Homo sapiens: one gene and its partners. The protein of the gene in region 2 interacts with the protein of the main gene of each other region in a biochemical or structural test. Each region holds a gene or a part of one and is shown on either strand. Other genes may lie near its edges. The genes, in order: SNTA1, GDA and DLG3.

Evidence for each region.
Region 1: the proteins of GDA (region 2) and SNTA1 interact in a test that uses a peptide from one of them, tested with the Homo sapiens proteins (2 studies listed by BioGRID and IntAct).
Region 3: the proteins of GDA (region 2) and DLG3 form a complex in vitro, tested with the Homo sapiens proteins (2 studies listed by BioGRID and IntAct, with this or other methods).

The regions. Positions count from the first base shown.
Region 1 is NC_000020.11:33,407,380-33,412,797, forward strand, and holds the end of SNTA1 (alpha-1-syntrophin), read right to left. Parts: exon of another isoform or gene 5,404-5,418; coding exon 5,196-5,403; exon of another isoform or gene 5,048-5,195; coding exon 4,917-5,047; coding exon of another isoform or gene 4,807-4,916; exon of another isoform or gene 2,953-4,806; coding exon 2,756-2,952; coding exon of another isoform or gene 2,724-2,755; exon of another isoform or gene 2,674-2,723; intron 1,510-2,673; coding exon 1,322-1,509; intron 1,221-1,321; coding exon 1,128-1,220; 3' UTR 578-1,127; downstream 1-577. UniProt on the Homo sapiens protein: Adapter protein that binds to and probably organizes the subcellular localization of a variety of membrane proteins. May link various receptors to the actin cytoskeleton and the extracellular matrix via the dystrophin glycoprotein complex.
Region 2 is NC_000009.12:72,144,956-72,152,455, reverse strand, and holds the start of GDA (guanine deaminase), read right to left. Parts: upstream 3,017-7,500; 5' UTR 2,897-3,016; coding exon 2,774-2,896; intron 1-2,773. UniProt on the Homo sapiens protein: Catalyzes the hydrolytic deamination of guanine, producing xanthine and ammonia.
Region 3 is NC_000023.11:70,440,554-70,447,917, forward strand, and holds the start of DLG3 (disks large homolog 3), read left to right. Parts: upstream 1-4,281; 5' UTR 4,282-4,648; coding exon 4,649-5,005; intron 5,006-7,364. UniProt on the Homo sapiens protein: Required for learning most likely through its role in synaptic plasticity following NMDA receptor signaling.

The DNA of each region.
Region 1 (5,418 bases), on a different chromosome or scaffold from region 2:
ACTGAACTTAGTGACTCATTTCTAATGAATAGAACAAAGCAGAAGCAACAGTGTAAGGCTTCCAAGACCGGGTCATAAGAGGCACTGTTTGTGGCTTCCTCCTTGCCCTCTCTTCTGTCTCACTGTGGGGAAAGCCAACTGCCATATCATGAGAAAACTCAAGCAGCAGCTCTAGGGTTAGCCCTACATGGTGAGGAACTGAGACCTCCTACCCACAGCCATGTGCATGAGCAGTATTGGAATGGATCCTCCAGCCCCAGTCAAGCCTTCAGATGACTGCAGCCCTAGCCGACAACTTGACTGCAACCTCATGAGCGACCCTGAGACAAGAACAGCCCAGCTTAGCCCCTCTCAAATTTCTGACCCACAGAACCTAAGAGATAATGAATATTTGTCATTTTAAGCTGCAAATTTTGGATAATTTGTCACACAACAATAGATAACCAATACACTGTCTTTGGCCCATGTAGTAAAGGTCTGTTCTTCTCCAGGGAAAGGTGCCCTAGTCCTTGGTCTGGTCCATCTTGGGACTGCAGGGGCCACCCCAGGACCCAAAGGCCAAGGCACAGACCACATACACTGGGCCGGGCTGCCTGTGTGCTCACAGGCTGTTTATTTATCCAAGAGTAAGGAGGAGAGAGACAGGATGAAGAGAAAAACCAGACTCCCCACGGTGGCAGGGCTGAGGGGAAAAACAAACAGAAAATCTCCTCTTCTTTCTCTTGCTGCTGACCCCAGGGTACTCCAGCTTCAGATGGGACCTCTGGGGGTGGCTTAGGGGCCTCGAGGAGGCCCGGCAGCTCAGCTGTTGGCTGGGGTCAGGATCCGCACAGGGGCAGGTCCCAGACTCGGAATGGCTTCTGTGTACACAAAATATCTCTCTGCAAAAGGCACTGGTGGAGGGGGGCAGCAGGAAGGCCACCCCATCACAGGCAGAGTCCACTCTGTCCTGCGTCTGGGTCCTGGGCCCCAAGACCAATCCAGTCTCCCTCAGGGTTGGGGTTTCGGAGGCCCTTGTTCCTCTCCTCTCCCTTCCCTCAGCCCAGGGGTGAGCAGGCAGTCGGTGGAGGCCCAGCTCAGGCCATGTCATGGACACCCCTCTTCAGGGCTAGTGCATCCGGCGACTTCTAGGCCAACAGCCCGAGGCGGGTGACTTTGGCCGACAGGAAGGAGTGGATGATGAAGACTATGGTTTTGGGACACGAGTGCAGGTCCAGCTGCTGGAGGGTGGATGGAGAGAAGAGTCAGGGCCCTGGCCAGCCTGGCCTCCGAGAGTGCACACCCCCTCCTCCCCAGGGTGCAGAGGCAGCCCCTCACTCACGATCTCGCCTTCAGCACCTCCAAAATCCAGGAAAAGGAGACTGGCACCGTCATCTGAAGACATCTGCAGCTTCTCGAAGGGCTGTCGCAGGAGCACAGCTCGGGCTGCACCTGGCTCAGCCGCCCACAGTGTGAAGCCCTTGTCGATGTGCACAGACAGGCTGCAGGGACGCCCATTCCACGTGCAGGCTGCAGGGAGGGCACATAGGTACAGGCACAGCTGGCACCTCAGAGACTACACCCCAACCTCCAACCCCCACCGCAGCTTACAAAGTGGGGCCTGAATGCCTCCAGGGATGGGAGGCTCACTGTTTGTCGTGGCACCAGTACACCCACCCTGCAGAGAGTCATCACCCCCACCCTCAGAGGACCTACACCCACTTCCAGTCCCACTTCCAGCAGCACAAGTAGAAAGGGGGAGCTTAAAATGTGCCATGGACAGGAGGCTCACTGCTGATAAAGGCATCATCAGATCTACCAAGCACCGCCCTTGGAGACCTGCAGAGTTACCCGGCTAAATTTAAATTTCAGATAAACAATGACTAATTTGGGCATACTTCTGTGAAAAAAGTATTCATTGTTAACCTGAAATTCAAATGAGGCTGGGTGTCCTGTATTTATTTCCTCTGGCAACCCTACCCCAAGTGCCATCTCTCACATCCTCACCAGCAGATTGACAAAACTGGGGCAAGAAAACCCCAGGGAGAAGAGTCTCTGCCTGCTAGGGCACCTGCACATCCAAAACAGAGGGCCCAAACCCAACTTCCTTTTTTTTTTGGAGAAACAGTCTCACTCTGTTACCCAGGCTGGAGTGCAGTGGGCGCAATCTCGGCTCACCACAACCTCCATCTCCCGGGTTCAAGTGATTCTCGTGCCTCAGCTTCCTGCGTAGCTGGGACTACAGGCACCTAGTACCATGCCCGGCTAATTTTTGTATTATTATTTTTTTTTTTTGAGACAGTCTTGCTCTGTCGCCCAGGCTGGAGTGCAGTGGCACAATCTGGGCCCACTACAACCTCCACCTCCCAGATTCAAACAATTCTGCCTCAGCCTCCCGAGTAGCTAGGACTACAGGCGCCCACCACCATGCCCGGCTAATTTTTGTATTTTTAGTAGAGACAGGGTTTCACCATTTTGGCCAGGCTGGTCTCAAACTGCTGACCTCAAGTGATCCACCCGCCTCAGCCTCCCAAAGTGCTGCGATTACAGGCGTGAGCCACCGCACCTGGCCAATTTTTGTATTATTAGTAGAGACAGGGTTTTGCCATGTTTGCCAGACTGGTCTCAAACTTCTGACCTCAGGTGATCCACCCACCTTGACCTCCAAACCCCATTTTCTATCCCCTCCTGAAGTGCCCTAAAGAAGGAAGCTTGAATGCCCCTGGGGATAAGAGGCTTATTACCAGAGGGACACTCCCAGATCCTCCCAGCACACCTGTAGACACCTCCTGCACACCCTCGGCGGCCCGGTGACAGCCATCCACAAGCTGGCGGGTCCAGGCAGCCAGCTCCTGCGGTGACTCCACGCTGAACAGGTGAGTGTCCACACCGTGACGCGTGCCCGTGCGCAGGGCAAAAGAGAGCTCTGCATCGTAGGGCACTGAGCCCTTGGAGGGGCCTGAGTGCACCAGTCTGGGGGTTGGGGGCAGAGGGCTGAGCATGAGGCCTCAGGCCGGAGGCAAATAGTTCTGGGCAAAGGGGCCAGTGACCTGGGAAGAAACCCTGTAAATCCTTTACCACCTAACAGGACAGGACTTGCCAGGGGGCACTGATTGACTCAGCAGGAGACATCTCCTGCCACCCTCCCCGTCACTCCCTTGGCTCTGGCTATACTGGTGTCATCACACACACCTAGCACATGCCTGCCTCAGCACCTTTGCATATGCTCTTCCCTCTGCCTATACATGCTTCCCTGATTATCTGCACGGCTCACTCCCTCACTTCCTTCAGATGTTAGTTTAAATGTCACCTCCTCTGAGAAGCCTTCCCTGACCTCCCAGTCCAAAATAGCACCCTTGTCACTCACTAGCCTTACTTTTTAATCATGGTACCAGAAATTATACTTTTTATTATTTGTTTTCGTTGGTTTTTGACTGTCTTTTTCACTAGAATGTCAACTAGGTTAGAAATTTTGATCTTGTGTTCACCACTGTATTCCCAGTAACTAAAACCATGCCTGCCCACAGTAGGTGCTCAGTAAACTTTTGTTGCCTAACTTGAATCACTTGATTAGGCAGACAGTCCAGGACCTAGTTATCCCTAGTAGCCAGCAGGCTCCTGACACACGGGCCAGAGCCAGCCTGAGGTAAGGAGACATGGGGGACAAGGACTTCAGACCCCTGCAGCTTGACTCTCACTTGCTGTGTGGCCTTGGTAAGCCAACTGCCCCTCTCTGGGGCAGAAAGTTCTGCCCCATATCCCTCTTTGTTCCTCCCTCCACCCACTCTTTCTCCTATAGCTCAGTTCCCCCCGCCACAGACTGCTGCTGACACCCGCCTTCGACTTTCCAGCCCTGAGCTGCAGACCCTCGAGTCCCCAGGCTTCCTATCCAAGCTCCCTCTCCATCCCACACACACTCTGGACTTAACTCAGCATCTTGCTCCAGCCTCCTCCCTTTCCACCCCCACCCCCAGTCCCACGCTCACCCAGACACAAGCTCCAAACCTCCTGTTCATTCCGGACCCCTCCTTCACCCGCCCCATCTGGCAAGCACGGAGCCCTGTTAATTTTACACCCATGTGGTTTCCAATGCCAATGCTGCCTTTCTTCCCCATCTGCTCCTGCCACCCACCTCCACCTCCCCCAGCCACCATCATCTCTCCTGCATGACTGCAGCACCTCCCCACTTCCATCCTGCACTCTCCGCTGCATTCTCCACGTGGCAGCCACAGGGATTCTCTTAAAGCAACCAGAGCACCTCGCTCCCCAGCTTAAACCCTTCAACACTACCAAACTCTTAAGCTAAAGCTAACATTCCTTAATCAGGCAATAGAAGCTCTTCAAGATCAGGCCCTGCCAACTCCCTTCTCTCCATTTCCTGCATGAATTCTGGTTATCACAAACTCATAGCTCCATGAACATGCTATAGCCCTTCATGCCTCTGTACTTTTGACCATGATGTTCTCTCTGCATGGGATGCTCTTTCACCCTTTCTTAAACAGAAAACTTCTACTCATCCATCAAAGTCCAGCTCAAATGTCACCTCCTCCCTGAAGCCTTCCTCTACTACCCCAACAGAGTTAAGTGGCTCCTACAAACCCTGCACTGTAATGGCTGTTCCTGGGTCTGTCTCCCCAGCCAGACAAGGTTCTCTCTGGAGGCAGAAACTGTTGGGGTCAGCTCTGTGCCCTCTGAACCATGCAGCACAAGGCATAAGTGTCAGCGAATGAGTGGCTAATGGGGACCTTATATCCTTTTGTTCCAAGCACCCATTTTACAGATGAGGAAACTGAGGCCCAGACAGGGCAGAGACTTGCTTCAGGTCACCTGGGGAATAGCTGAGGGTGGACAGGGCTGGAGTTCCCAGCTTCTGGGGCCCTGCTGGAGCATCTCCTGGCAAGTTCTGGGGGAGACATACTGCCCCTGCCTGTGGGTACCTGGTGGCGATGAGTGGGGCAGTACGGGCTGGCCGGCTCAGGGCCTCGCGGGTCTCGGGGAGAGACAAGTAGAGGAGCAGTTCCTTTTCAGTTAGCAGGGCCAGGGTGGGGGCTGTGCCCCCACTGGGCAGCTGCAGAGAACAAAACAGCAGTGAGGATGGGTGGGGGAAGAGAGGGCAGAGGGCCAGGGCAGGGTGAGGTGGCCAGGGGCACTGGGAACAGGGCCAGCTCCAAAGGAGCGGAAGAGAGAGAGGGATAGGTCCCAGGCCCAGCAGGTACCTGCTCAGTTAGCCAGCCAATCTGCTTGATGTCCTGGCTCCCAGCTGTGCTGGTGGCTGCCAACAGTGCCTGCAGCTCATCCTTGACCCGCGGCGTCAGAGTATTGACCTGGGCTTGGATGGCAGTCGCCCACGACCTCGCACTAGCCTCATCCTTGGCCCTCAGGAAGAGGGTGTCTTGACCATCTGCCGAGCAGATCTCCAGATACCTGCAGGCACAAATG
Region 2 (7,500 bases):
TTAAAAGCTACATGCTACTTGAGCAGAAAGTATAACTCTGTATTTTGCTTTATACCAAAAAGTTGGCTAGATAATTTCTTTTAATTAACCTGCTTTTGAATGAGCTTTAATTTAATGTATTAAGAGCAGTTAGTCATTGGCATTCTCTGGGCCTAAACGAAGTTATACAAAATAAGGAATAAAGTTTAAAAGCGAGACCAGAAGGACAGAGTAAGCTTTGTGCCCTCTCGCTGAGATTCTACCCCAGATCTAAACTTGCAATGGAGAAATAAGCTCCTGATACTTCACACAGCTTGTCCCATCACAGAAACTATGTGTTACAGTTATTCAAAATGTAATCCACCCGCTGCTATAATCCACCCGCTACCTGCGTCTGAATCTCCTGGGATGCTTGTTGGAATGCCACTTTCTGGGGCCTACCCCAGGTCTATAGATTCAGAGTCTCTGAGGATGATGCCCAGAAATCAGCATATTATCAAGCACCCCTAGATATTTCTGATTCATTGCAAGGTTTGAGCTCCTAAAAATTTAGGAGTAAAAATTTACAGATCATTGGCCGGCGCGGTGGCTCACGCCTGTAATCCCAGCACTTTGGGAGGCCGAGGCAGGGGGATCACGAGGTCAGGAGATCAAGACCATCCTGTTAACACATTGAAACCCCAACTCTACTTAAAATACAAAAAAATCAGTGGGGCGTGGTGGCGCCTGTAGTCCCAGCTACTCGGGAGGCTGAGGCAGGAGAATGGCATGAACCCGGGAGGCAGAGCTTGCAGTGAGCCAAGATCAAGCCACTACACTCCAGCCTGGGTGACAGAGCGAGACTCCATCTCAAAAAAAAACAAACAAAAAAAAACCAAAAAAAAAATTACAGATCATAATAATTCAACATATTTCTGTATTCCAAAGGCGTATTATTTTCTTTTTTGAACCTTGAAATGTTTAAATAAATAATATATTTATCCCAGCAACTCTAAAAGTAAGATACTCTCCATTTTGAAATGGGGGATGTCAAGTTTTGAAATATGTATGGCATGCTCTCTCTTTAAACACAGCCAGGTATCAACTGCCTTGCACCTAGGAGGAGAGGAGAGCAACAGTTAGCAATCCACTGGTTCAGGAGCTCTGTACCATACATTCCAGCCACTGACTAACTCACCTTTGTATTCAATTCCTAAGTCATTTTGTCTTGTGGGGGAAGGGCATGTTTTCTAAATTTATAACTTCAGTATGATTTTTAGTGAGGAATAGACTCCCTGACTCAACTACTAATTGTGTGTTTGGGAAACTCTTTTATTCTTCTTCTGTACAAGCACCAGAAAAGGTATTTTTATTACTTCCTTTTCTTATTCCTCTCCACTGGTAAAACCAGTTGCCTGTTACCCTACCAATTACAATTCTGGATATGGGAAATTAATTTTTAAAAAAGAAACCCAAGAGTTGAACAGCTTCTTGTGATTAAAATAACACCTCTAATCTTACACCAGTTTAGCAATCTCCGTTCCTTTGCTTCCTGGGACTTGCCCCAAACCTGAGTTCCCTGAAACTTGAGGACCAAGTCCCCAAGCATGGGTTCATCAGTCTCAGGGTTTACCGGAATCTCCCTGGGAGAGCTCTGAGAGTTTTATCACCTTGGAAACACAACAGCAGGCTCCCTGAACGTGCATAGAAAGAGTATTTTTTAAAGCACCATGAGAAAACAGTGTTTAGTTACCCCCAAATGTAAGAGTCACGATTCAAAACTGTCACCGACTCGGTAGCATCTTAGTCAAGAATAGTATCTTCAACTTGACAAATCACAAGTATGTGTACTTTTGCTAACCAAACCAGTAGTTGGAAAACAGCTCAAAAAATCCCATCTCCATATTTATTTTATCATTTTTTTGTTCTAAAAAATGGAATGGCTTCACTTATCAAACTTGCCAGGCCATGGCTGATATAGTCACTATATGTGTGTATGGAACAGTAAATAGTAGACATCAAGTTACCTGTGTCATTTGTAGAAATCCTGATTTTGGAAAAGGAAGTGTAAAAGATACATTCAAAGAAGACATTTTGAACCTTAAAATGGAACTGCTTGCTTTGATGCAAATGGCTATGGTGTGTGTGTGTGTGTGCGTGCGTGTGTGTGTGTGTGTGTACGCGTGTGTGTATAAGAGAGAGAGAGGAAGGAAAAGAGATGGATGAATTATTTCTTTCGGACCATCCCTTCTAGTATTACAAGTTGTGGAACCTTCATCGTTAGTATATTATCTCTGTTGAATGATAGGGTGAATGTAATCAGTTCTATTTATTCTATGTTCTGGACACGCTAAACAACATCAATCAAATGACCCCCTCCTCTTATTTCTTTCACAATAAATTCAACCACATTTATGGAGAGCCTCCTGTGCCAGGCACAGTGCTAGGTGTTGGAAACAAAGATGATTTAAGCAAGATTGAAGATTATTGCCGGTATCTTAGGATTGGAACGGGGGGCGGGGGAGCGGGGGGTGACATCCTTGCTCCCGGCTCTACCGCAGCCCGGACTGCTGTCGAGCCAGTTGTGGCGTTAGCACGCCACTGCTCCCGACTTCTGGGAACTCCCCAGCCAGCCCACGAACCTAGCGCCAGGGTTCTCTCTGCGTTGCCCAAGAGCCAAAGACTCAAGTTCAACTCCGGAGCCGCGGCGCTCACTGCGCACCGAGCGAACCCCGGGCTACGCGAAGCACCGCGCCAGGTTCCTTGCACCTATCCTCCCGCCCGTCGGAGTGCGCTCGACCCCGCGCCTGCTTACTTTGCCGCTGTCGCTCACGCCGAGGAGGTGATCCCGCAGCACCTCCATGGGGCAGGTCCAGGTGGAGTGGACGAACGTCCCTCGGAAGATGTGCGCCAGGGGCGGCATCTGAGCGGCACACATGTCAGCGGCGGAGCGCAGCGCGGGTCTGCTGGTCGAGGAGGGCGCACGCGGCGGAGACGCAGCGGGACTCTCTGCAGCTGCGGGCGGCTGCCGGGCGGACACAGGCTCCGGCCTTGTCCTGCCCCCGCTTACCCGGGCGGTTGCCGGTACCCTGCAGGCCGCGCCCAGGGGCTGGCTCCCTACCTCCTCAATGCCAATAGGATTTTTCTCCCGCGAGTTGGCTCCGCGCTCCCGTGGGGTGTGGTCTTTCTCTCCACCCTTGCGTTAGTTTTGGTTGTGTTAACTCTTTGAGTTATCAAGATCAACCACAGCTGAGGCTCAGAAGATCAGCTTCCTCCACCTTCTATGAGTTGTGTCAGCCTGGCTCCTCTGACCCTTCAACTCCTAGGATCACTTACTTCTTCAACCTGTAGCACTCAGGTCCTGTACTTGCATTAGTTCAGGCACAGGTGAAAGGTCAGCTGGGGCTGCCTACCTTATGACCAGTTTCATTTTTAGTTTATGTAGACTGCAGAATTAGTATTGGTCCTCACCTGGAAGGTTCTGGAAGCATGTCTTACCGAACATCTCTGGGGACCCCTAAACTGGGTGTCATTGTGGACGCCAAGGTTCCTCTCTTCACCTTGAGGCTAATGTTTTTGGTTCTTGTGTTTGTCCGCAAACAATTCCAATACCAATTTTTCTCGTGTAAAATGAATGAATCTCTTTTATTTACTTCCAGTTGTACAAAGGGAGAAAATTAAGTTCTCAAGTCAAATAGGCAGCAATGGTACCATGGGTGCTGAATTGGGAATCAAGAGACTGTGGACAAGACACGTGGGCCTCAGTGTGCTTATCATCCCCACTTATGAAAATGGAGCTTGGACTGGGTCATAACTAGGGTCAGCGTTCCCACCCTACACAATGACCACAGGGTCCTTCACTAAGTTCCTCCATGAAACCCAGCTGGCTTCCATTCAGGGCCCTCTAACGTGCTGTTCCTTCTGCCCCTAATCCCTCTTGTGGCGCTTTACTTGGCAGCTCTTCTCACCACTGATTTGTCTCAAATGTCAGGCTCTTCGGAGTCACCTTTCCTGACCACCAAGTGGCACCGGACTCCCAGCAGTTTCTACTCCACTAATCCATCTTGTTTCTGCCATTGCATTTATTGTGTCCATTCTTCTTTATTTTGTGTTTTTTAGTTTACTCCTGTTTCCCTCTCACCAATACACACACACACACACACACACACACACACACACACACACACATACACACACCAATAACAGAAGCACCACAGGAGCAGGGAATGTGTCTTATGCCTAGAACAATGCCGGTGTTCCATACATGTTTATTGAATAAATGAATGGATGGTTTTTCTGTGAGCAGAGCCATAACCTGAGACAAATAACTATTTTGACAACTACATAAAGGGTGAGGGTTTCATTGCAGTGTGTGAGCAGTTTTTCTCTGAATTGCTGCTTTTAAGACACAGGGCTGGCTTATAGAAATGATTCGTTCCCTTCTCAGTTCCTTCAGCTCCCCCATAACCAATGTCTAAGGTGACCAACAAATCCTGGTTTACCAGGCACTTTCCTGGTTTTAGCACTGAAAGGCCGTTCAGGAAAACCGTCAGAACCATGCACACAGATGGTTGATCACCCTACCAGGGATCCAGAATTAGGAATCTCTGCAGCTGAGGTCATTACACTTGTCCCTGCTCCTTGTCACTTTCTCCTGATTCTGCCAACTGCACTCCCTCCTGGCAGTACCGACAGCCAGCACACTGAAAACATTCCCTTGTATACACAAAAACCTCAGACAGAAAGGTGAAGAAAATGGCTTTTGAGATAGGATTCAATCAGATGTTTCCAACAGATGTATTACTTTCCTAAAACAGATACGGTTAATAATTTTTTTGATGATTAGGTTTTAATGAAAACCTAAATGTCAAAAAAAAAAAATAGAGACTAGTTTTATGAACTAGAATATATCTACTTGATAGAACATTATACAGTTATTAAAAACAACAGGAGAAATATATAGCCACAATGTTAAGCTTTCAAAAATGGCTTCTGGCTGGGCACGATGGCTCACGCCTGTAATCCCAACACTTTGGGAGGCCGAGGCGGGTGGATCACGAGGTCGAGATTGAGACTATCCTGGCCAACATGGTGAAACCCCATCTCTACTAAAAATACAAAAATTAGCTGGGTGTGGTGATGCGTGCCTGTAGTCCCAGCTACTCAGGAGGGTGAGGCAGGAAAATTGCTTGAACCCCGGAGGCGGAGGTTGCAGTGAGCTGAGATCACGCCACTGCATTCCAGCCTGGTGACAGACCAAGACTCGGTCTCAAAAAAACAAAACAAAACAAACAAACAAAAAACAGCTTCTATGCTACGATGAAAACCATGAAAAGCTATAAGCATATTTGCTGGAATTGAAAAGGTACATCAAACAATGTGTGTTGTTCTGTTGAGATAATGGAATTGCTAGGTAGAGAATTTTGTTTTGATTTTTTTAATGTTGTTACTATGTGGTTTATAGGATGAATAATCATTATGATGCTTTTAAAGAAATTAATCGTCTTAAGCAGAAGGATTGGCCATGAACCTCCAGGTGACATGGCATTAGTGCTCCTCAGGTAAATTTTAGCTCTTTTGAGCAATGCATAGTTCCACTTCCATTCCCAGTCAAGTTGTAGGTACCTGGGCCCAGGATCCAGAAGCCCTGGGTGCTATACTGCCAGGCAGCATGGCTCAGCCACATGCCAGAAGTCTTGGCTTCCCAGCCAGGCATGGTGGCTCATGACTGTAATCCCAGCACTTTGGGAGGCTGAGGAGGGCGGATCACTTGAGGTGAGGAGTTCGAGACCAGCCTAGTCAACATGGTGAAACCCCGTCTCTACCAAAAATATAAAAAATTATCCAAGTGTGGTGGCGCACACCTGTAGTCCCAGCTACTAGGGAGGCTGAAGCAGGAGAATCGCTTGAACCCGGGAGGCAGAGATTGCAGTGAGCCAGGATTGAACCACTGCACTCCAGCGTGGGCAACAGGGTGAGACTCCACTCTCGGAGGTGGCAACTCCTTTAAATTGCTGGTCCTCCTGCAATTTTGACTCCCATTCTGGTATCCCCAGGGAAATATTCTCCTGGCTACAGAGGTTTGGAGGAAAGAGGGAGTACAGAGCTTTCATATTCACCCTCAAAATACAGCCCAAGCATCATTAGTGCTCCACCCCCACATATCACTTCCTTCAGAAAAAAAGAGCCCCGCCTTGGCATGGAATATTCCCTGGCTGCTTCTTCAGGCTTGGCTACCTCCACTCTCCCATATGCTATGAATCCGCTTTGCTCACACTCTTCTCTCTGCCTGTGGTGCCCTTTTACCACCTTACACCATGTCTGCCTCATTGTCCCACCCACTCCCCCAACCCCCAACCCCCCCTCACCTTTATCCAGGATATCTTTACATTTCTGCTCTAGAGTGTTAAGTGTTCCTCCCCTGAGTTTGTGGGTGTGCTGTAATTGTTCCATTACTCATCTATACCCCAAAGAAGATGTGTTTTTCTGAAGGACCATGTCCTCTTTCTTTCTGTGTATCCATCCCCTTAACACAGTCCCTGGTCACTAGGAGGTGCTCAATAGATTTATATGAATATTGAATTGCAGGAGATGGCTCTAGTGCCTATATTTTAGTCATAAAAATTAAGAGGCTATAGTGGGTGTCTGCTAATGGTGAACAATTCATTGGGACTAGAACTTAAGGATGAGTTTTATTTCATTTATTTAGTTTTCCAACATTTTATGAGAATGTTCAGACATAGAGAAAAATTTTAAAGCTTCATTTCTTACAATCTCAATTTTCTCTATTTCAGATGGAGCCAAGTAGCCCCCAAATTCCCCAACTACTGGGGTGGGATCATCGTGTTCTAAACCTCCAATTGCCTGAGGCCAAAACCTAGACCATAGCATGATTAGCTTTGACATTTTGCTCATCTCATGAATGTAATTATACCTGTAGCTTAGTCAGTCAGTCCTTTTTGCTAGATAGAACCTGACTGTTTGAAAAGGCTTTCTCCTCTATTATCTAATTTTGAGCCTCTCAACAACCCTATAAAATAGGAAGAGGATGTATTTTAAACATTCCACAGATGGGGAAACTGGGGTTCAGGGAGGTTGGCTTGCCTGTGCAGTTAATATAGGATGGACTTGGATCTTGAGTCCAGTTGTTCTCATACATTGTCTCATCACAGTAAACTCCCAGGAATTGTTCATTCAGTTTTGCCATGACTCACTTGGCCACTGCACTGTGGGCTGTCATCTACAACTTTCACATTGTACATGGTTTTCCAACAGTTGCTGGTGACACTCAGATCTAGCCTGCAGTAAAACTAAAGGGAATAATGGGCCTTGAGAAAAACAGGAATCCAATCAGCGTAGGTCAGTAGAATGGGCTATCGAAAATAACTCAGGTTTTCATGAGGTACAGAGAGTGCAGGGAAGCAGTTTAAATGAGAGGCCACTTTTCCTCTCTTATCTAGGAGAGAAGTTGTCATTGTACAGTGAAATAAATGCCTGCCTATTTTATTTATTCTTTTCATGTAGCTAAATCTATCAGTTTCC
Region 3 (7,364 bases), on a different chromosome or scaffold from region 2:
GGCACAGTGGCTCACGCCTGTAATCCCAGCACTTTGGGAGGCTGAGGTGGGCAGATCACTTGAGCCCAGGAGTTCAAGACCAGCTTGGGCAACATGGCGAAACCCTGTCTCTATTAAAAATACAAAAATTAGCTGGATGTGGTGATGCACACCTGTAGTCCCAGCTACTCAGGGGGCTGAGGTGGGAGGATCACCTGAGCTTGGGAGATCGGGGCTGCAGTAAGCTGTGATTGTGCCACTACATTCTAGCTTGGGTGACAAAATGAAACAGAGTCTCAAAGAAAAAAAAATGAACAGAGCCTCAGGGATGCTTGGGACTATAACGAAGGACTTAACATTCACATAATTGGAGATGTGGAAGAAGAAGAGAAAGAGCATGGGGCTAAAAAAAATTACTCAAGAAATAATGGCTGAAAATTTGGCAAAAGACATAAATGAACAGGTTCAAGAGGTTGAACAAACCCCAAATAGGATAAACTCAAATTCACCCCAAGGCACATCATAATCAAACTTCTGAAAACTGAAGATGGGAAACTTGAAAGCAGCAAGAGAGAAACAACACCTTACCTACATAGGAAAAGGAATTCAAATGTGGCCAGGTACAGTGGCTAACACCTGTAATTCCAATACTTTGGGAGGCCAAGGTGGGAGGATAACCCAAGGCCAGGAGTTTGAGACCAGCCTGGGCAACATAATGAGACCTCGTCTCTACTAAAAATAAAAAAATTAACCAGGAGTGGTGTGCGCCTATAGTCCCACCTACTGAGGAGCCTGCTTGGGAGACTGAGGCAGGAGGATCACTTTGAGGCCAGGAGTTTCAAGGCTGCAGTGAACTATGGTCACACCACTGCACTCCAGCATGCTATATCTGGTGAAAATATCCTTCAGGAATGAGGGGGAAATCAAGACATTCTCAGACAAAGGAAAGCTAAGATAATTTGTTGCCAGCAGACAAAGAATGGCTAAAGGAAGTTATCAAAACTTACAGATGAATAATGGAACCATTTACATGTAATGAAACTTACATGTAAATGGTTCAGAAAAAGGGATAGATAGATAGATAGATAGATAGATAGATAGATAGAGCATTAACTGGGCATGGTGGCACACACCTGTGGTCCCAGCCACTTGTGAGGCTGAGGTGGGAGGATTGCTTGAGCCCGGGAGTTTGAGGTTGCAGTGAGCCATGATCACGCCACTGCACTCTAACCTGAGTGAGTGAGCAAGACCTACTCTTTAAAAAATATAGATAGATGGATAGATACATAGATACATAGACAGAGCAAATATAACAATCAAAACAAGTCAAATTGTCGACTTGATAAGGAAGGCATACAGTGGTGTCCATTGTACTACTCTTCCAATATTTTTGTATGTTTGTAAATTTTCATTTTTAAAACTGTTGGAGAGGATATGTGGAGGATAGATATATGATAAAGCAAGCATAGCAAAATGTTAATGAGAATCCTAGGCAGTGGGTAATTGGATGTTCACTGTAAAATTCTTTGAATTTTTCTGTATGTTTGAAAACTTTCATATTAAACTGTGGGGGCAAAAAACTTGAAAAAAAAATCACAACTTGGTATCCTCCCCTACCATTCCCAATCCATCTTACTGTGCTCTACTTTTTATTTTTTTCCATGGCACTTATCACCATATACACAGCAGGTGTATATGCTGAATAATGTTGTTTTCTTCAACATCATTTTGTTTTAACATTGATGAGGGGGAAAAAAAAACAACTAAAACGATTCCTGGCCAGAGCCACTGTCTGTGTGGAGTTTGCACACTCTCCCCATGTATGTGTGGGTTTTCTCGGGTATTCCAGGGTACTGCGCTTCCTCCCACATCCCAGTGCACGTTAGGTGAATTGGCGTGTCTAAATTGTCCCAGTGTGAGTGAGTGTGGGTGTGTATGTGAGCGCACCCTGTGATGGAATGGCATCCTGTCCAGGATTGGTTCCTGCCCTGTACCCTGAGCTGCTGTGATAGGCTGTGGCCACCCTTGACCCTGAACTGAAATAAGCAGATTGAAAAATGAATGAATGGATGGATGGATGGATGGATGGATGGATACAAAGTACTGTAAAATAAAAATTTGTCAAGTAGTTGATAATCATACAAATGCACAATAAACTATGAGGTAAGAAAGTGCTCATCGAGCTCACCATATTCGTGATTGTTTGCTTTTGAACTGCATGGTGGTAGGGAGGTGCTCCTTACAATTTTCGCTTTGCATACATTTATTCCTTGATTCAACCCACCACCACTTCCACTGCTGTCACTCACTGGTTCACCAAAGGTTAGGTAATTATTTACTTGTTTTCATTAATCTTTCTATATGTATGCATAGCTCATATTTATTTCAATGTTCAATATCAGAAGTGTTTTGGGTCTTTATTTGGAAGCTGGGTGATGTTTTGTGACCAGAAATATGCTGTAGGAACTTAGCTCTTGTTTATATTAATTAGCCTGTGGTAAAATTGGTTTTGTTATACGTTGTTTCACTTAGTCCCAGTTGCCAAGGACCTACCAATGATGTTAAATGAGGACCTACTGTACTACATAATTCACTTATTTATTGTGTTTATTTTTGTCTGTGTCCTCTCACTAGGAGGTAAGCTCCCCAAGGGCAGGGATTTGTTCTGTTTGTTCTGTTTTATTTTGTTTCCTGCTATATCCCCAAATCCTACAACAGTGTCTGGCACACAGCAAGTGTTCCACGCATATTTGTTGAATTAAGAATGAATCTCTGAGGGCCGGGCACAGTGGATCACACCTGCAATCCCAGCACTTTGGGAGGCCAAGGTGGGTGGATCACTTGACGTCGGGAGTTCGAGACCAGCCTGGCCAACGTGATGAAACCCCATCTCTACTAAGAAAATACAAAAATTAGCCGGGCGTGGTGGCAGGAGCCTGTAGTCCTAGCTACTAGGGAGACTGAGAGGCAGGAGAATCGTTTGAACCTGGGAAGCTGAGGTTGCAGTGAGCTGAGATCACGCCACTGCACTCCAGCCTGGGTGACAGAATGAGAATCCATCTCAAAAAAAAAAAAAAAAAAAAAAAAGAACCTCTGTATCCCTAATACCTAGGTCAAGGTCTTGCACAGAGCAGGTGCTCAATGAATATTTGCTGAATTGAACTGAGATGTAAATTCTGCAGGAGAACTTAGAATAGACCTGTCGTACTAGAGTGGTTCACAGCGTGGACTCTGGAGTCAAATAATCAGGATTTGCATCCTGATTCTGTCACTTCCAGCTGTGTTACCTAGCTGTGTTAACATCTTTGAGCCTCAATTTCTCATTGGTAAAATGAAGATAATAATAGCATCAGCTTGGTAGGATTTGGGTTTGCGTGTTATGCACTTAGGACTTTGTAAAGACCCAATAATTGGTAGCTAAAAACAAAACAAGAACTGCAAAAAAGATAGTCTTTCTTGTATGTCATCCTTCCTCCATTCCCCCGACAAGCTGAGCCAGGAGAGGGTAAGGAGATGTCCTTGGACAAGTATTCCTAAGCTCTATTCCAGACCCATAGAAGGGTTTCTCTCTCTTCAAATCCCTTCTTACCTTTTCACCTGTCCTGGACTTTCATCTTGATATCCTGAAGTTCCTTCCCCCATCATAACCATGCAGGGGTGGAGTGGAGGAGATAGGGGTTTGTGGGCCAGGGACAAGGACTTAGAGCTTTCTGTTAATCCCTGTTCTAGGGTTGAGTTCTTTACTGGTGATGGTAGAAGGTCAAGTGTGAGGTCACAGTAATTTCAGGGCCTAGAGACTGAGAGAACAATAGTCTTGTGTAGGAGGCATTGACAGGACAGCGGGCCTCATATGCTGCCTTCTTCTTTGGTCCCCTGTAAGAGAAAGCACCTCCCTCACCCTGCTCCAACGTCCTTTCTGTCCATCCTGCTACCTCGTCTTTACTTCTGGTGGCCCCAGCTCAGAGCAAGCCTGGGGACCCATTGAACATCTCCCTGCAACTCCCTCTTGGAAGTGGGGTGGGGTGGAGTGGGCAGAGGACAGGCTAAAACTGGCGATATAAGGGCACAAGATCGGGTGCCTGAGCTTTCTGGTGGCCCACGTCCTCTGCCCCCGCCCTTAGAGCCAACAGTTCCCTAGAGATTGGGGGAGCTGGGGCTGAGCCTGGGGGCGCCGCTGCCTCTGTTCCTTTAAGTAGCCGCTGTTTAGCATTCCTGCCGCCGCCGCTGCCGCTGCCGCTGCCTGCCTCTGCGCGCTGATTGGCTGGAATCAACTGAGAAGGGAGCCAGGGAGAGATGCTCTTGACTCCACTCAGATCCATCCTGGGGACCAGAGCAGAAGCGGTCCTCACAGCACCCATTCTCTGCTTGAGCTCCCGCTTCTTCTTTGCCGCTGGGCCTCGGCCCAGAAGCCACGACGGGCGACACGGAGCCGCCAGTGCTGGAGGGGGAGCCGTGGGTGCGGGGCAGCGTGGGGGCCGAGGCCCCGGGACGCCCGCCCGGCCCCAGGCCCCGCTCAGCCCGGGCGCCCCCACGGGTGCCCCCCCCTTCTTGGTCCGAGCAGTGTGAGTGTGCCAGGGAGCCCGGCGGCGGCGGCGGCGGTGGTGGCGGCGGTGGCGGCGGCGTGGAATCCGGCGTGGGCTGGGGGGTCCGAGCCGCGGGGGGCAGTGCCATGCACAAGCACCAGCACTGCTGTAAGTGCCCTGAGTGCTATGAGGTGACCCGCCTGGCCGCCCTGCGGCGCCTCGAGCCTCCGGGCTACGGCGACTGGCAAGTCCCCGACCCTTACGGGCCAGGTGGGGGCAACGGCGCCAGCGCGGGTTATGGGGGCTACAGCTCGCAGACCTTGCCCTCGCAGGCGGGGGCCACCCCCACCCCTCGCACCAAGGCCAAGCTCATCCCCACCGGCCGGGATGTGGGGCCGGTGCCTCCTAAGCCAGTCCCGGGCAAGAGCACCCCCAAACTCAACGGCAGCGGCCCCAGCTGGTGGCCAGAGTGCACCTGTACCAACCGGGACTGGTATGAGCAGGTATGGACCAGCGGAGGGGGGAGCGGTGGGGCAACCCAGGAGGGCTGGAGAGTGGGGGCCTAGAGGCCTGGGATGCAGTAGGGGTCGCTGGGGCTCCAAGCCTGTGGACCCCGAGCCCTAGCATTGCAGCTGGGCAAAGAGAGGCGGTGGGAAATGTGTGGTTCCCTGTGTGTGTCTGTTTGGGGGTCTCCATTAGAAGACTGGGAGGAGCCGTGTGTCAGGGGGTAAGGGCATGGCGGAGGGGCACATTTTCCTGTGTGGGGGAATTGGGTTTGTCTCAGTGTGGGGGTTTGGCAATGTCTCTGTGTCTGGCAGGGGGCGGGAGGTTCTGCGGGGGCTGTGTGTGGTGTGTGTCTCCACCGGAGGGGAGGGGAGGGGGCATGGTGCTCTGCGTAGGGGGGACATATGTGTGTGTATGTATGTTGGGGTGTGTGGAGGAAGGCAATGGAGCTGCCGTGAATCCGTGTGGAGGAGCCCATGTGCCCGGCTCGCTGAGCTTCATCCCTTGATGCCATGAGTCCCTCTCCGTCCCAGTCCCTTTGTGTGTGAATGTGCACATGGATGTGTGGAGATGTCACTCTGAATGTGGAGAGGTCTCTGTAGAGGAGGCTGCAGGGATGGCTGTGTTTGTGTGTGTGGCTACATGTATATGTGTGTGAGCATGTGGCTGCAAGAGTGTGCACGCGTGTGCCTGGTGTGTGTGTGTGAGTGTGTGTTTGTATGTGTTGTCTCTGGTGAGAGGCGCTTGACAGGCAAGGGAGGGGAGAGGAAGGAGGCGAGAGACATGTCCCAAGCAAGGCTGAGAGGCTGCTGAGAAGGACGGACTCTTTTGTCCAAGCAGCTCTGTAGTGTGTGTGCCGGGGTGGGGTGGCGGGGGGCGGGGGGAGATTTGAAGGAACTGAAGCAAGCCTCCTCGCTCTAGAGCAGGCATGGTGCCTGGAGCCGGCAAGGGGCAGCTGCCCTGGTGCAGAGACTGGCCCCAGTGGGGCATGTCCCCCTTGGGTACCTCCAGATGTGAGAGGGCTTAGCCCCCCAGCCCTGACTTGGCACAGCTTGGGAGCCCCTGGGTGCTGGGCACAACTCCGGCTTCCACTCCCAGCCTAAACTGCCAGCTTAGAAAATGGAAGGAGCATCTGTGGGAGAAGCAGCAAAATGGAGGCTGGGCTGGCAGAGCCAGGTCCCTGGCACGCAAGGCGGAGGGCCTGTCTGGTTATCCGGCTCTGCAGCTCCTAGGGTGGGGAGAGAGGAAGAGGAGGCTTTGCTGTCGAGGGCAGGTGATGACTTCCCCAAGCTGGTGACCGTTCTGGCTGCCTCTGTCCTCTGGGGATAGGATGTGCTCTCACTCAGAGGCAAAGGTGGGGACTTCCTGGGGAGAAGAGCCCTCAGTTCTGGCCTTCTGTCTGTCCACACTTACTGCTTTCCCACATCCCTTGCCTTGGCCTCTTGCCCTTTCCAGCGAGTCCCTCTCTCTCCTTTGCCCCCTCTCTGTCCTGGAGGCCTTTCTCTCGCAAACACCCTCTTATGCTTGTCCTGCCCGGCTGGGAGACAGGTGGCAATCCCAGGCTGGGCCAGTTGGCCAAGGTTTCTTTGCCAGGGCTGATCCCTGGATGGCTCCTGGCCCTGAGAACAAGGTCCTTGAGTAGGGGTGGGGGCTAGAGCGTGGACCACTGGGAACGGGAAGCCTCTGGGTACCACTGGGGCTGGGCTTGAGGCATGGCTTGTCACATGTGGGCACACATGGTACACCAAATGCACACAAGAGCCACATGGGTGTCCCTTTGCTTATGTGTCTGTTGCATGGTACTTAAGGCAGCTGTGTTGGTTTCGGGTCTCTAAGGAGCCTTCAGTTCTTCTTCCTGGGGTCACAGACCAGGGTAAGGCTGTAGCTGGAGTCCTCCCACCAACTCCCACAGCTGCAGAGCCAGCCCAGAAATGGTGGAGGCATGATGAGCTAGTCCTCTCTCCCTCTCCTCCTCTCTGCTTCTTGAAGCCAAAGCTGTGTGGGGTGGAGGTGGGACGGGGGAAGCACAGCAGGACATGTGGAGGAGCCCCCACCCTGGTTTCCAGCTCCCCACTTCTGAGGAGGAGGCTAGAGGTCAGGGAAGGGACAACATAGCCAGAGAAAGGTGGGGGAGGGGTGCCAGGGTACCTGGGGAGACAGGCAAGAGGGCTTCTCCATTCTTGGAGGTGAAAGTGGGAGCCAGCAGGCAGGTGCTGCTTGTATGTCCAGAATCACATTTTCACTTGACAAATAGATACACACATGTCCTGTCTGGGAGGCCATCTCTGTGGGTTGGCCAAATCACCCCTGTGTTTCTGACCCCTTCCCTTGCCTCTTCTTGCATGGCTACTACATATT